4 linked regions of the Homo sapiens genome follow. The protein of the gene in region 2 purifies or fractionates together with the protein of the main gene of each other region. This does not show direct contact. Each region holds a gene or a part of one and is shown on either strand. Other genes may lie near its edges.

The links. Proteins that work in one complex are often made in the same cells at the same time.
Region 1: the proteins of DSG2 (region 2) and ZDHHC5 purify together in Homo sapiens (co-immunoprecipitation; one large-scale study listed by IntAct). This does not show direct contact.
Region 3: the proteins of DSG2 (region 2) and LPAR1 purify together in Homo sapiens (co-immunoprecipitation; one large-scale study listed by IntAct). This does not show direct contact.
Region 4: the proteins of DSG2 (region 2) and NCSTN purify together in Homo sapiens (co-immunoprecipitation; one study listed by IntAct). This does not show direct contact.

Annotation. Positions count from the first base shown.
Region 1 is NC_000011.10:57,699,114-57,701,965, reverse strand, and holds the end of ZDHHC5 (palmitoyltransferase ZDHHC5), read right to left. Parts: coding exon 2,548-2,852; intron 2,101-2,547; coding exon 1,935-2,100; 3' UTR 784-1,934; downstream 1-783. UniProt on the Homo sapiens protein: Palmitoyltransferase that catalyzes the addition of palmitate onto various protein substrates such as CTNND2, CD36, GSDMD, NLRP3, NOD1, NOD2, STAT3 and S1PR1 thus plays a role in various biological processes including cell adhesion, inflammation, fatty acid uptake, bacterial sensing or cardiac functions.
Region 2 is NC_000018.10:31,500,856-31,504,921, reverse strand, and holds part of DSG2 (desmoglein-2 preproprotein), read right to left. Parts: intron 1-4,066.
Region 3 is NC_000009.12:110,874,188-110,877,970, forward strand, and holds part of LPAR1 (lysophosphatidic acid receptor 1), read right to left. Parts: intron 1,536-3,783; coding exon 1,234-1,535; 3' UTR 1-1,233.
Region 4 is NC_000001.11:160,349,883-160,353,665, reverse strand, and holds part of NCSTN (nicastrin isoform 1 precursor), read right to left. Parts: intron 3,562-3,783; coding exon 3,416-3,561; intron 2,445-3,415; coding exon 2,294-2,444; intron 1,971-2,293; coding exon 1,861-1,970; intron 1,613-1,860; coding exon 1,460-1,612; intron 780-1,459; coding exon 675-779; intron 507-674; coding exon 429-506; intron 344-428; coding exon of another isoform or gene 335-343; exon of another isoform or gene 1-334. UniProt on the Homo sapiens protein: Essential subunit of the gamma-secretase complex, an endoprotease complex that catalyzes the intramembrane cleavage of integral membrane proteins such as Notch receptors and APP (amyloid-beta precursor protein).

The DNA.
Region 1 (2,852 bases), on a different chromosome or scaffold from region 2:
CAACAGGCTTTCATACCTGTTACTATGTCACCTTTGGCTGTTTCCAAAATTAGCTTTACTTTCCAGAGACTAAATCCTGTATTAAAAAACAACTGTAGCTGGGCATGGTGGCTCATGCCTGTAATCCCAATGCTTTGGGAGGCCAAGGCAGGATTGCTCAAGGCCAGAAGTTCGAGATCAGTCTGGGCAAAATTGGTTGAGAGTCTATCTCTACCAAAAAAAAAAAAATTAGCTAAGCATGGTGGCATGCAACTGTAAGTCCTAGCTTCACAGAAGGCTGAGGTGGGAAGATCCCTTGAGCCCAGGAATTTGAGGATATAGTGATCTGATTGTGCCACTGCCCTCCAGCCTGGGCAACCAGAATGAGGCCCTGTCTCTTGAAAGAAACAACTTTTAAGAGTTCTCTAAGCTTTCAAATAACAAGCAGTTTTGGTGATTTCAAGAGACCTTTTTTCAGGAATTTTTGAATTAAATCACCCAAATAAAAACAGGACCTGTTGTTTTTAGAAATGGAGTCTCTATGTTGCCCAGGTTGGTCTGGAACTCCTGGGCTCAAGTGATCCTCTTGCCTCAGCCTCCCTCAGTGCTGGGATTACAGGTATAAGCCACCGCACTGGGTCTCTTTTTTATTTTTTTAGTTGTTAAGTGGCTAATTTCATTATAGTCTTGCCTAAAGATGGGCTGGGACCAGAGAAGTTTATGAGGTTGTCACTGATAACTTCCCACCAGAGATCGTTCACCCTGTCTCAACCAGACAAAATAACACAAGTCAGGGGGCGCTGGTTAGATCAGGATTTCTTTTTATTCCTCGTTGGTTTAAAATGGCTAATCAGAATAAAAAATAAAAGGGCCTCTTTGTGGAGGCTGGGATCTCCCCTATTTAGAGGTTAGAACCCAGGTATCCCCTCTACCCAGCACCATAGTGAGGTGGGCTGAGGGGTAACCCCCAAGGGACAATCGGAGGGGCCTAGGCCTGCCACTCCTTCTCTCTATCCCCCGTTTTTGGCATGTGATGAAAAATATTGCTTTTTGGATTCTTCTCTCCTGGCCTTGGATTTTAAAATCAAGTTAACTGTGTAAGCTAGGGGAGGCTCCAAGGGGCCAGTAGGAGCACACTCTAATCCCTCTCCCCCAAGGAGGGGATTATCCAATATTGTTTGAGCTAGGCCAAGTTATTTTCCTGATCTCCCACCACCACCAGTGTCTTGAAGTTTTGACCCCTTTCCTAGGGAAACTAAATGCCAATGAGCCTAGAAAACTAATTCTCCTCTCCAAGTCCTTCCCTCTTGTGACCAAAATTCCAGACTCACCTCTCCCCAGGCTTCTTCCTAATCACACTTAGCACCAGCAGAGGATGCTATTTCCGTAGTTAGTAACTGGGACAAATGAGAGGGAACCACAGGAAAAAGACTGACGTCTCCCCTCTTTTCCTGCTGGTCTGAGGAATGGGAAGAGTAAGATCCCCCTCCGTATATGTATCCCTCCCTCATTTTCCCATCCCAGGATAGATATATAATTTCTTTGATATTTATAATATATATATATATATATTATATGTACACACACACCTGGTAACGCAGAAGAGGAAAAAAATAGAATCCGTAACAATAATAAAAAAAATTATTTCTGGTTTAAAAATGATCTGGTTCCCTCCAGGGCGAGCAATTGCACAAATGTCCACTGAGTCTGGTCCAGGGATCAAGGAAGGGAAGGTCTTAAAAGATAAAAGGGGGGGTTGCTACCCCAGTCTCAGGGCCCCAACTCTCCGACTCCCCAAGCCTACTGCATTTTAGAAAACACTCCTCATCCTCTTGGAATCGGTGGTTTAAAAAATGTCCATGCACGGGAGGGGAGCCCCTTGAGGGAAGGAAGGTGGCCACCTGGGGCCCTTTGGTGTAGGCGCAGAGGCGTTGGGGAGGGGAGGTGCCGAAGGCTCACACCGAAATCTCATAGGTGGTACCACCAACCCCTGACACCTTCTTGACTCCTCCCCTCGTGGGGCTACTGAGAGGTGGCTGGCCTGGGCCAGGGGAGGCTGAGCCTAAGCTCTTGGGCTGCCCGTTGGATTTGCTGTAGGTGGTCTTCAGCTGTACTTCATCTCTGGAAAGAAGAGACAAGACGTAGGTGTCAGGAAATGGGACAGAAAACATTGGAAAGGGAGACAGTTTCAAAGGTTCAGAGAAAAAAATGATGTTCTTTTCTATATCCATACTTTCTTACCCAAACATTCCCCTTTATTGCCCTGCTTAAAATAAGCCTGATTCCCAATCTCTCCTATGTACTACTACTCTCTAGTAACAGCTATCACATGTACTTACTCCCAAGCAAATACTTTTAGGAAGATAGCATTATGGAAAAAGTATTAATCTTCAGTCTCTTAACAGGAATTGCCCATGAAGGCAGGTAGAGTCAAAGTGAAAATAAAGAGCTACCAGGATACCCCTGGGTCCACCTACATTAGGATGTACAACAGAAGCCCTGATAGCTTTTGCAGAGCAGTATGCTAATTTGAAATTGGCTAAGGGTCAGGATAGTACTAATACTTACTTGGGTGTCAGTAATGGCTGCAAGGCCACTTCTTCTGTCTCAGAGACACCAGGTTGGGCTTTTTGGCTGCTGTAAGACATCGATCGGCCCAGGTATGGGGCTGTTGGGCCTGGTTCAGGGGACCCTACTCCCCGGCCCCTTAGCCCATCTGGCTTGCCAAAACGGGGGACAGCTGGGCGTCCCAGTGGAGTCTTGCCCAAAGGTGATCTCTTTGAATCATCTGAGGAGGAACTAGTACGAGGGGCATGGCCCGAGCCTGGTGTTGACTGAATGCCTGAGTCCCCCAAGCCTGGTTCTTCCTCACG
Region 2 (4,066 bases):
AGTCTTTATGGGGACAAAAATCCTTGGCAATGCCCTGTGTGGGGATAATAGGGAAGGAGTCAGAGGGTGCCAACGTTTTCAGTCTGAGTGGCTAGAAAGATGCAATTTCCAGAAGACAGATTGTAGACATGTTAAGCTTAGGTCCTGGGGAAAGTATCTGAGTAGGGCGGAGAGATGCTACATAACAGAGAGCAGGGCAGTGCGGCTCAATGACGAGCATGGATTGCCTGGCCACTGGGGACATTCTCAACATCCACATGCACACTGTCCTAAGGGCAGCACCCTCTTGGCCACTGCCATTGTCTCCCACCCCTACTTGATGTCTCCTAGTAATATATGTACTGTGTCCCCCCCTCTGCCGTCTGCCCATCGTGCTAGGCCAGATAAAAAGGGGTGAGAAGCACTGCAGGTTCCTGTAAGTGAAAGGAACCCCAGAATACTGAGAAAGCAAAGGAAGGCGATAACTGAAACAAGAAATGATATGATTAATGGTTTTAAAAGAAGATGATGACTGAGCTAGGACCCTTGCCCAGTTTCTCAATTAGCACTTTTGGGGTCTAAGGAGACTGGATCATTAAATTGAGGCAGTGGGTATCAAACATTGTTTAATGTTTTTGTTTGCATTGTAGGGGGCTTGAAAGAGTGGTGGGATGGAGGTGTTTTAGACCGAGGGAAATCTGAACGGTCTCATCTCCTCTCATCTCCATCCAAAACATTCCCCAGTCAGCCAGATGGAAACTCCTTGACTGATGAAAATAATCCACAGTCAGGTGTGATTTCGAGGTGAGACCTGGAACAGTGCTTGGCACAGAGTAGGTGCTCAATATTTGTTGAGTGGACGAATGTATCAAGGCGTAATCAACCCAAGAGATATTTGCCTTTCAAAAAGAGGGTCCAGACAAGTAAAATAAATCCCTACTTAGAACCTCTTACTTTGCCTATCACTGTTTCTCAATGTGGGTGCTATAAGCATTTTGGATAGAAAAATTCTTCACACGTGCCCAATTCTTGAAGGTTCTGCAGAATGTAGAGTCTTAGCATCCCTGGACCTTGGGAACTAAATACCAGGGGCATCCTCAGGCACTGTGACAACCAAAATGCCTTCCCACCCCTTTGGCTCCCAAACCAATCTCCCTGTGGCAGTCAGGCTGCTTCTCCCTCCCAGGTACCCCATGGTCTCTGGGCTTTTCTGCCTGGCTTTGATCTCAGCTTACCAAGTCCTCAATGCCTGTTGCCTCTCTTTTTAACTGGGCGCAATTATACTTAATCACTCAAATCCTATCTCTTCTTTCTTGACTCTTTCCTGACCATCTCACCCAAAGCCCATCTTTTCATTTACTTAGTGATGTGAATACCTCCCTGAAAACACTTCCTTGGCAAGTAGCTTTTCTGGGCTTCTGTTGGCTTGAAGGCCTATCTTCCTATACATTCTTCTGCCTCACTTTCTAAGTTCAAGCAACAATGAATGTTTAGGTTCCTCTGCAGAACCATGAACTATCATTTTCAGGCCTTTTAGATGCTCTTCTCTCTACCTAGAATCTATTTCTCTTCATATCATCTCACTAATTTATAATTATTCTCAGATACCAGCTGGGATACCCAGTGCTGAGATAGTTGCTCCTTCTATAGGCTCCATGGTACTACGTTTCTCTATTATTACTCTTCTTATCGTTACCCATTTGGAAGTTAGCCATTTACTTGTTATACCATTCATTAGACTGTAAGCACCATGAGGGCAGAACATGTCTGGCTTTTTTATAGTTCTCCAGTGTTTAGCACATTGCCTAGCATCAAGCAGGGATTCACTAAATAGGGGTCATGTGTCTGGTTTCTTTTCTTATGGACATTTCTCATCTCACTATCGACCACGGTAGGAATTCTGTTGTTCCAGCTTCTTCACTCTAATCACCAAGCTTTGCATATGACAAAAACTTAATAAAAAACAAAACTGAGAAGATAGTTTCTCATCATATGTAGACTATATGTTTATAAATTGTTGTCAAAGCTATTGAAATCTGTGTCAGAGTGAAAGACAAGGGAAAAAAGCTGTGATTAAAAATTGCTCAAATAGATCTAAAAGTCCTTTATGCTTTCAGTTAAAGTTCCTTCCTTCCTTTCTTCCTTCCTCCCTCCCTCCCTTCCTTTCTTCCCTCCTTCCTTCCTTCTTTTTTTTGACAGAGTCTCCCTCTGTCACCCAGGCTGGAGTGCAGTGGCACAATCTCGGCTCACTGCAACCTCCGCCTTCCAGGTTCAAGCGATTCTCCTGCCTCAGCCTCCTGAGTAGCTGGGACTACAGGCATGTGCCACCACACCCAGCTAATTTTTTGTATTTTTAGTCGAGATGGGGTTTCACCATGCTGGCCAGGCTGGTCTCAAACTCCTGACCTCAGGTGATCCGCCCACCTTGGCCTCCCAAAGTGCTGGGATTACAGGCGTGAGCCACTGTGCCCAGCCTAAAGTTTCTAATTTTAAATATAATTTGGCAGTTTTCAAAAACACTTATCCCTATTCAATGTGTAATTTTTCCCATGTAAATTTTTCTATGTCATAAATATAGATTTTTTTGCAAAATATAGACCAGTAATTCTCACGCTTACACTTGTCTGACAATTAGATCAATTGGGAAGTTTCTATAAATACATATTTATATTGTAGTGAGCCCGCCCCAGGGCTCACTACACTCACACACCACAGAATATTAGCCTTGGAAACTTTAATTTAGCTTATCGGGGATTTCTAATAATCAGAGAGTACGTAGGCCAATGAATGCTCATATCTCTTTGTAAAGTACTTGCCTTAAGTTATAATTAAAGAAAATTTCTGTTAAGAGCTGCCATTTTCCCATTACCTACTAACTTTTAGAAACAAAAACCAGTAAGAAATCCATGTTTCTAAAATCCTTGGATATGATAATTGATTATTCTTATGGCTTCAATATTCACCATCTAATTTATACTTTAATGTATTCTTTAATATATATTATTCAGTTGTATATTAGAACACTAAGCATAACTCTGATATTATTGATAATTTATAGATACTTGAATCCACTTGTTATGGATCAAATTATGACCCCTAAAAGATAATATATTGAAGTGCTAACCACCAGTACCTCAGAATGTGAGCTTATTTGGAAATAGGGTCTCTGCAGATTTAACCAAGCTGAGGTCATTATTTTGGGGCATAATCCAGTACAACCGATGTTCTTATAAAATGGGGAAATTTGGACAAGGACACAGACATGCACAGAGGGAAGATGATATAAAGAGACAAAAGAGAGAATGCCATGCGCAGATGGAGGATTGGAGTAATGAATGCACCTACAAGAGAAGGAATGACAAAGATTGCCAACAAACCAGTATGCACTTGGAAGAGGAAAGGAGGGAAACTGGTTTCAGAGGGAGCATGGCCCTGCCCATATCTTGATTTTGGATTTCTAGCCTCTGGAACTGTGAGATCATACATTTTTGTTGTTTTAAGCCACTCAGTTTTTAGCACTTCGTTACAGCAGTCCTAGCAAACTAATACCCTACTAAATATATCTGCTCACAGTGTGATCTGCTATCATTGAATCCTTAAAATGTAGTTTGATTTTAAAGCACAAGCTTCATTAGTCGAACCCAAAATTGAAGCAACCATCAGGAAATCTCTCACCCACGAGCCCTCCTTGGCAATCTGGCGAGGCCTATGAACCCCTTCTCAGATTAATGATTTCAAATGTATAAAATAAAATACAGGGGATTATCAATGAACCCAATTATATTGAAATAGTTATCAGCATTTTTAAAATACCAATTTGTGATGCAGCAGTATCATGTATTTTATTAACATATTAAGTAAAAGATCTAGTAGAAAGTCTATTAGTGATGTTCAGAATAAATGGTATTTTGAGATCACCATAAGATGTAAAGGTATTTATGAATTCTATTGTGATAGTCACAGCTACTGCTCACACTACTGTGCAGTGTCTTCCCCACACTCATAATTTAAAGAAATACTAAATTTCAGTCCGAAGTTAGTTAAAATATATATGTAATTAATTCCTTGCCATCTCTAGGAACTCTTT
Region 3 (3,783 bases), on a different chromosome or scaffold from region 2:
CTGCAACTTTATAATAATGAAAATTAGAAACAACCTAAATAGTTAACAACATGGGAATGGTTAAATAAACTGAGTTGCATCCATTAAATGGAATATAATATAGCCATTAAAATTATGTTTTTGTAAAATTTTTAATGCCATAAGAAAATGTGGCAATTTTGCAATGAAAAAGATCTACTTATAAAACTGTTTACAGTATGACTCCAATTATGTAAAAAAAGTATACAATACACATATAGGCATACATGGGGGTTGCTTTTTAAAGGTGGTTACTTCTGGGTTGTGATATTATCAGTAATCATTTTTGCTTTTTTATACATTTCTGCATTTTTCAAGTTTTCTATGATGAGTATATTATTTTACAAAGACTACGAAAATTTTCCTCTGATATACTGGTAATTAGAATGTACTTGGGTATTTTAAATATATGGGAACAATATTATAGTGCTTCATCTTCTATGACTTTTTTGGAATACATATCACTTTGGTAATAAACTTACATTCCCTGTTTTATACTTGTTACAACATTTTAATTAAACAGTTAATATTGTGATTAGAGCATTGTTTGCTTCATGACCTAAACAAATACTGGCTTTGAAGTCTAGGTTCTATTTCCTAGAAGATTTAACATTAGTATCCTTTTAATCTTTTTAAGTAAGGCATACTGCATACATACATTACATGCATGCTTTCTAAACAAAAGATAATTCCAACTTACAGTTTTCCTATGTAAGGGAAAAAATGGAATTATGGTAGTTTAAAAGCAGTCCATAGTCTCATCCATCACAAACATGCTGATAGGCATAAACGTGTTTATTAAGTGAAACGTATCCTTTAAAAATAAAAAAGGGAAGCCTGTATATAAATGAAGTTGTGGATTCAACTAGCCAGAATTTATTCTGACTTGCACCAAACCACACAAAATCTTTTAAAAGTCTAGTTAGTGTAGTCTAAATGGACACTCCAGAGTCTGTTCTTGAATTCCATTGCAAGAGCTCCAACTTCCTACTTTCAGAAGGGATGGGGATCAAGATGAGGGTTGTCACATAAGCTAATTTTCAATATATATCAAGTCTTGTGGGGTCCAGGAACAAATACTGTCATTGGTTAGTGTTTAAGTACATGAGTTGACTTTTCTCCTCTCTCACACCCCACCTTGCCCTGGCAATTGGGTAGGGGGAGGCTGTTTATCCTCCAAGAGAGGACGGCTGGTTCCTCATCTCAGTTTCCGTTCTAAACCACAGAGTGGTCATTGCTGTGAACTCCAGCCAAGATGGTGTGGTTGAGGGAGGAAGCCGAGCGGTCTGAGCCTTCTGTGGGGCCGGTGGGGTTCTCACTGCGCTGGCAGCAGAGGATCTGCCTAAAGGTGGCGCTCATTTCTTTGTCGCGGTAGGAGTAAATGATGGGGTTCATGGCAGAGTTGAATTCAGCAAGGAGAAGGAAGAATTTCTCATAGGCCAGCACGTCGCACTGTGGACAGCACACGTCTAGAAGTAACAAAACCAATCCAGGAGTCCAGCAGATGATAAAGGCCCCTACAAGGACAAGGATAGGGATCAGAAGGATTTTTAAAAAGAGAATGAAAAAATATTATAAAACATGCGACCATAAAGTGAAATGATTTCAGTTCAATATAAAAATACTGAAGTTGGAAGCCACCATTGTCGCAAATGAAATACTCATTTCCTGAGAAAATCAGAAAAAATTTAACGATAGTCAACTTAAAATTTTATTTTGGACGTTACTAAAATCAAGCAATTATGAGACATTGATGATTATTATTTTGAGCAAAACACAAAGAGTTTGATAAGCAATTGAGATATGAAAAACTGCATTCAGGAAACACTTCACCTCACATAACAACATGGTTTTTAATAGCAGTGTTATTTTCAGGCAAAAGATAAGCACGAATGATAAGTGTCCTTTAATGTTTAATTAAGGCATAGTTTCTGGATTCAGGTTGTCTGGGCCCAAATCTTTGTTTGACATGTAATAAACTGGGTGAACTTAGGCAAACTACTTTCTTTCCTTAATTTTCCCATCTGAAAATGCAGATGATTATATTTACACCTCATAAGGTTTGTTGTATGGATTAAACAAGTGTTAAGGAAATAATCACTCAATCTGTATCTACAATAACAATAATAATTATTACCTGCTGAGTAGCATGGGCCTGTTTGGAAATTGTGATTTTCAATGACAAGATCTATGTTTTATTTTTATTCAACAACTACCCACATAGTGCTGTCCTATATGCTTTACCAGTAATAATTTATTGAATTTTCACAGTAGCCATATGACATAGAAACTAATATCCCCATTGTACAGATGAAGGAACTGAGACCCAGAAAGTTTATATAACTGGCTCAAGGCCACAGTACTGGAAAGCAGAAAAATCCCAGAGTTTCTGTTCTTAGAGGCTGCCTCCAGAGTTCAAGCTCTAGAAAATATTACATTTCTATATCTTGAAAATGATAACATTAAATATTTTAAACCAAATTTACTATTTCAGATGTTCTACTAATTTAGATCAACTTTGTTCTCTTTCTTCCCCCAATTATTCTGAATCATTACAATTTTACTATAACTGTAAGAGGAATGAAAATATAGATGAGATGCTTAATTCTATTTCATTTAGTTTCTGAAATCACTCATCATTTGGATCCCAGGAAAATGGAGGTTGTAAAATAGCATTAAATCCTACCACTGTGTTACTCCAGACTCTGCTGGGGATCTTCTACTGAAAGAACATGAGCCAACAGCGGTGGGCACCACTGTGTCCCATTACACCTCACCTAATGGGCCCCATATGTGTAATCAGGCAGGCTACATATGTGTAATCAGGCAGAGCGGAAGTAGGAGCAACCCCAGAAGGGCATTTGCATCTTCAGATTTAAATGGCGCTGGCTTTGGTGGATGCAGGCTTGGACTGGGGTCATGGATTTGGTCCAGCCTCAAGGAATTAGTTTCACAAAATGTAAACAAATGAGATTTAGTCTCCAAACAGCCCACTTTTGAATCTGAGCTTTCTTTTGTGAAACTTTTCAGCAGGGAAATGAAAATAAAGGAGAAAAGTACCCCCATAAAGCTCTTTGTTCTACAACACAAATGTGTATTGGTTTTAAACTGCTGTTCACTTTGAAGATTGGCCAAGGTACTTCATTTTCTAATAAATACAACACCTTAGACTTTCCTTGGAGAGAAAAAAATATTTCAAATATCAGGAGATAATAGCCAAGGAGCAATTTGAACTTCAATAAAAATGTTAATAAAGCATTCATTCCAAGTCCTTGAATTTCCTTGCTTGAAAATCACTCAGAAAGCTAAACATAAAGGAAAATCAAAGGAATGCCTCTTGGGTTTCAGAAATAATGCATTATTCATTGAGAAGCCAGGAAGGGAATTATTCTCAGGATGGAAAATGCTTGGATGGAAAATGCATGGTCCCATTATGCCATTTACTTGGAAACTAAAAACACACAGTCCCTTCATGAATGGAACAGCATTCTTTCAAGTTTCCTTTCCCCTTCCTTTTATCAAAGCTCTAATTGAGTTCAAATTCAGAACTTGATTAGACACAAGGAACATGCATCTCAATAGCTAGATTTTAAATAAAATGATCTTTTTCTCCTTCTGGGCAACAGAAGGGAATATCTTTATTCTCTCATACTTAAGCTGCTTGACTTTGCTCAAAAGTGAGAGAATTCAAACACTGTCATTTGTTGTTTATAATTTCTTCCCATGTTAAAATTTAAAAGGTGTAAGATCTTTCCAGAAAGAGCC
Region 4 (3,783 bases), on a different chromosome or scaffold from region 2:
CAGGCCTAAAGGTGGACCTAGAGGGAAGGGAAGGTTTTGAACAAGCAATGAGGAAAGTGGAGGACAAGTTGGGCAGCGAGTGTGACACAGCCAGGACTTGGGTAGAGCAGCCTTGACAATTGGATCCATGGGGCAGCAAGGCAAGAAGGGAGCTAGTCACTCACCTATCCTTAATGGGCAGTGGTAGTCTGCTAGGCAACAAATGATCAGAGAACTACCCAGTCCAGGGAACCAATGGAATGTCACTGAGTTCCTGATTCTTCCCAGCAGCAACAACAGCTGTGGTGTTCATCCTTTGGCCAACACCCAATCCAATCCTGTCTCTTACCCTGTCTCACAGGCCCTGGGGGTTGGTGGAAACAGGGCAGGGGTTGGGGTCTGGATTCTGAGCTGTAGGAATAGGAAATGAGGGGAGATGCTCAGGTTACCTGGTTCCGTACAGACTCATTTTTCTGAGAAACAGGATCTGTGTGCATCCAAAGCTCTAATGAAGTTCTTAAGGCCACCTGGGGGGAGGATGAAGAAACAACACTTAGAATCAGTCTCCTGTTCTGGGCCATGCCTAGGGGATAGAAGTCAAGGGAAGAGGCGGTGGTTCCTGCAGTTAAGACCGCAGAACAACAAAGGAGGAAGATTTAATTAAAAAGGAAGGGGCTGGGGGACATGCCACATACCTGTCCCAGCTCCACAAATGAGTCAACATTCTCTAACTGCACGGGAAACTTGCCCTTCTCCATATCGTAGACCATCCTCGAGCTGCCAATGTAGTCAAAAGTTTCCTGAGAGATGGAGGTAGGTGGGAGGGGGAACAGAGATTCCAAAGGGTTAGGAGAGCCTCGAAGGCGGCCAGATCATCAAAGCTGTAGGTAAGACGACTATCTCAGGTCACCTCAACTGCTAGTCAGCTTACAGTCATGTGACTTTCGGCTTCTCTTGGCCCCACCTCCCAGCTGTGACTATCCCTCATATGTATTACAAGACTTCTGAAGCCCAGAAATGGGGAAAGTAGCCTTAGTAAAGGTCTAAGATGAACATCAGCTATTATGTGTCTGATTCTTAACGGTCCCCCACCTCCAGTGACTCAGCCACAGATGCTGTTCCCTTATTCTGCTGTGGTCCTAGTGATGAGAGTCAGGAGCCTAACGGCTCCTGGATGGAGATAGCAGTAAAGGAGTCCAGAGAATAAAAGTAAAAGGCCGCCTCCAATATATCTTATCAGTGGGGGAAAGAGGGGGCTGGTTACATACCAATTCAGGGTGTAAAAGCTTCCTAAAAAGAAGGAATCTAAGCTTCCTAAAATGGAGGAATCTAAAGGGGAGACACATGTAGACACATCCAGAAGCTCTGTGCTGGTTAACAACTTAGGTCAAGTGCTGAGGTCTTCTCCAACCAGTAGCCACTCTCATCTTTACTATCCTCTTTCTTCCCTGCCATTGCACCCCAGCCAAAGAGCCCTTACCCCTTGAAAGAAGACAAACATGACATTGCGGGGCAGGGTGGTCACATCAGGTGCCTTTTGCAAAGCTTCAGCAGCAGCCAGCTGGGTGACAAAGGAAGCCACTGCGCTTTCAGCCCCTGGGGCCACATTCCAGAAAAAGGAACGACTATCCAGCTAGGTACAACAGAAGAAAAGTCAGGGGATATATACTTTAAAACTGGCCCCAAACCTCCTTTCTTGCTCCAGTCAAGAGAATATACCTGTCCTGTGGCAATGGAGACAACCCAGGAGTCCCACAGCCCAGATTCCTCCCCATTTGAGGCTTCCCAATTTAGCAACTTTGAAATCTGATATGCTAGAGCGGGGCCTACCAGCTCTTTTTGTGCCAGCCCTGCCCATCCTGATCAGAAGCCAACACTCACCCGGGTGGCAGCAACCACAACCCTGTCGTCAGGCTTTAATGTCCCAGTTGTATTTATAGGCTTTAGCATGCTCCACACATTGTAATCAGACAGGGGGTCACAGACGATTTCTAAGCAGGACACAAACAATGAGAGATCAACAAGGCTAAAGGAGAAGGTAGCTATAAAGGCAACATTGGAAATCTCTGACCAGTGCCCCACGGACTCTAAGTCGTTTTCTCTACTTCCAACAGTCCGAGGTTGGCTTCTCTGCCACTATCCACTTTAGGAACAAGCTGCCTAAATTTTTCAGAATTGTTTCTAGTTCTCCCATGCAGAGCTCCTTCATGGTGTCTACTCCTTCCCTATTACAGTCTCTCTAACATTCCCTGGCCTGGTTCCACTCTCCCTCTGCCCCTTATTCCATTACCCTCATGGTTCGGATCTGCCCTACCTGGGTTGATGCTGAAGGTGCTTTGGATGGAGCTGCGCCGCATGCAGGTGGCAGTGCTGATGACAGCATGCATGTGTGAAAAGAGCTGCATGGCACATAGTGGGAAGGTTGGTGCTGAGCCATTCTGACTCAGGTTGTGATCTTGATAGCACTGAAAGGGGAGATGGACCCCACTGAGACAGCTAGTTTGTGGAGGCCCTCCCTTACATCCCAGAAGGAGGAGGGCCCAGTTCCATCCTTTTGGGATGGAGCCACACCCTTTTCGGAGACATTTATCCCTGAGCTATAGTTATCCTAGAACCACCATAGGATCTATAAGGTCAAAGAAAAAAACTCATCAAGAGTTACAAAGGGTTGCAGACTCAGTGGTTTAGCTGGAGATGAAACTATCCCATTCCAGATGGCCTGGCCCAATTTGAAGCTTCAGCCACTGAAAAGATTCAGTGTGGTCTGATACAAAGAGCACCAAACTAGAGATAGGAAATCAGATATGACACAGCTTGGAGATCAACTCACCATACAACTTTGGACAAATCTCTTAACTACTCTATGAGTCAAAATGGAAATACTAGACCAGAATTAAGGCATATTAGAGCTAAAAAGAAGCTCAGAAATTACCAAATTGAATTTCTCAATCTCTAATCCAATGCTTTTTTTTTTAACGATACTAGTGGTTCTTAACCTGGGCTGTGTACCTTGTTTCATATTACTCTTTCAGATATTCTTTATATTTTCTTCTAGTCTAAAAGGCTTTAATGCTGTAATATCAGGTAGGAGCAAAATGTGGGGAAAGAATGTGAGAAGAACTAACGTCTTGGTTCTTTTTGGAGCAACCGTCTTTCAGCAGGTGTACCAGAAGAATGAGCCACCCTCCAAATAGGAGAGCCTATAAAATAATCCTTTTTTTTTTTTTTTTTTTGTGACACAGGGCCTTGCTCTGTCACCCAGGCTGGAGTGCAATGGTGCCATCTCAGCTCACTGAAACCTCTGCCTCCCGGCCTCAAGTGATCCTCCTGTCTCAGCCTCCCGGGTGGCTGGGACTACGTGCACACACCACCACACCTGGCTAGAAAAATAATCTTCTTTCTAACTGGAATTGCTAGGAGCTGGCAGTGTCATTACCTGCTTGATGACTTTGGTTTCATTTTCATCTTCAAGAAGAAAGATGGGGAAACTAAAGTCTTCATAAGCCAAACCATTGCCCAGCGAATTCCACTGTATTTCTCTGCAGTGAGCAAACTCTGGCCCATAGGAATTGGAGTAAACACCTGAAGGGAAGGATGGGGAATAGGGGGACTGGTTACTGGGACACCAAGTACTTAGGAACCAGGTGACGGCAGAAGAATCTTTCAGTTGGGACTAAGAGTTCAAAAGGAGGTGGTGACTCAAAGAAGTAGGCATGAAGTCTATTACCATCCACACTAAAATAGAAAGACAATGGTATCAGGGAGTCTTAGGCTGTAAGATTAGGGATGTGAACACGTGACAAA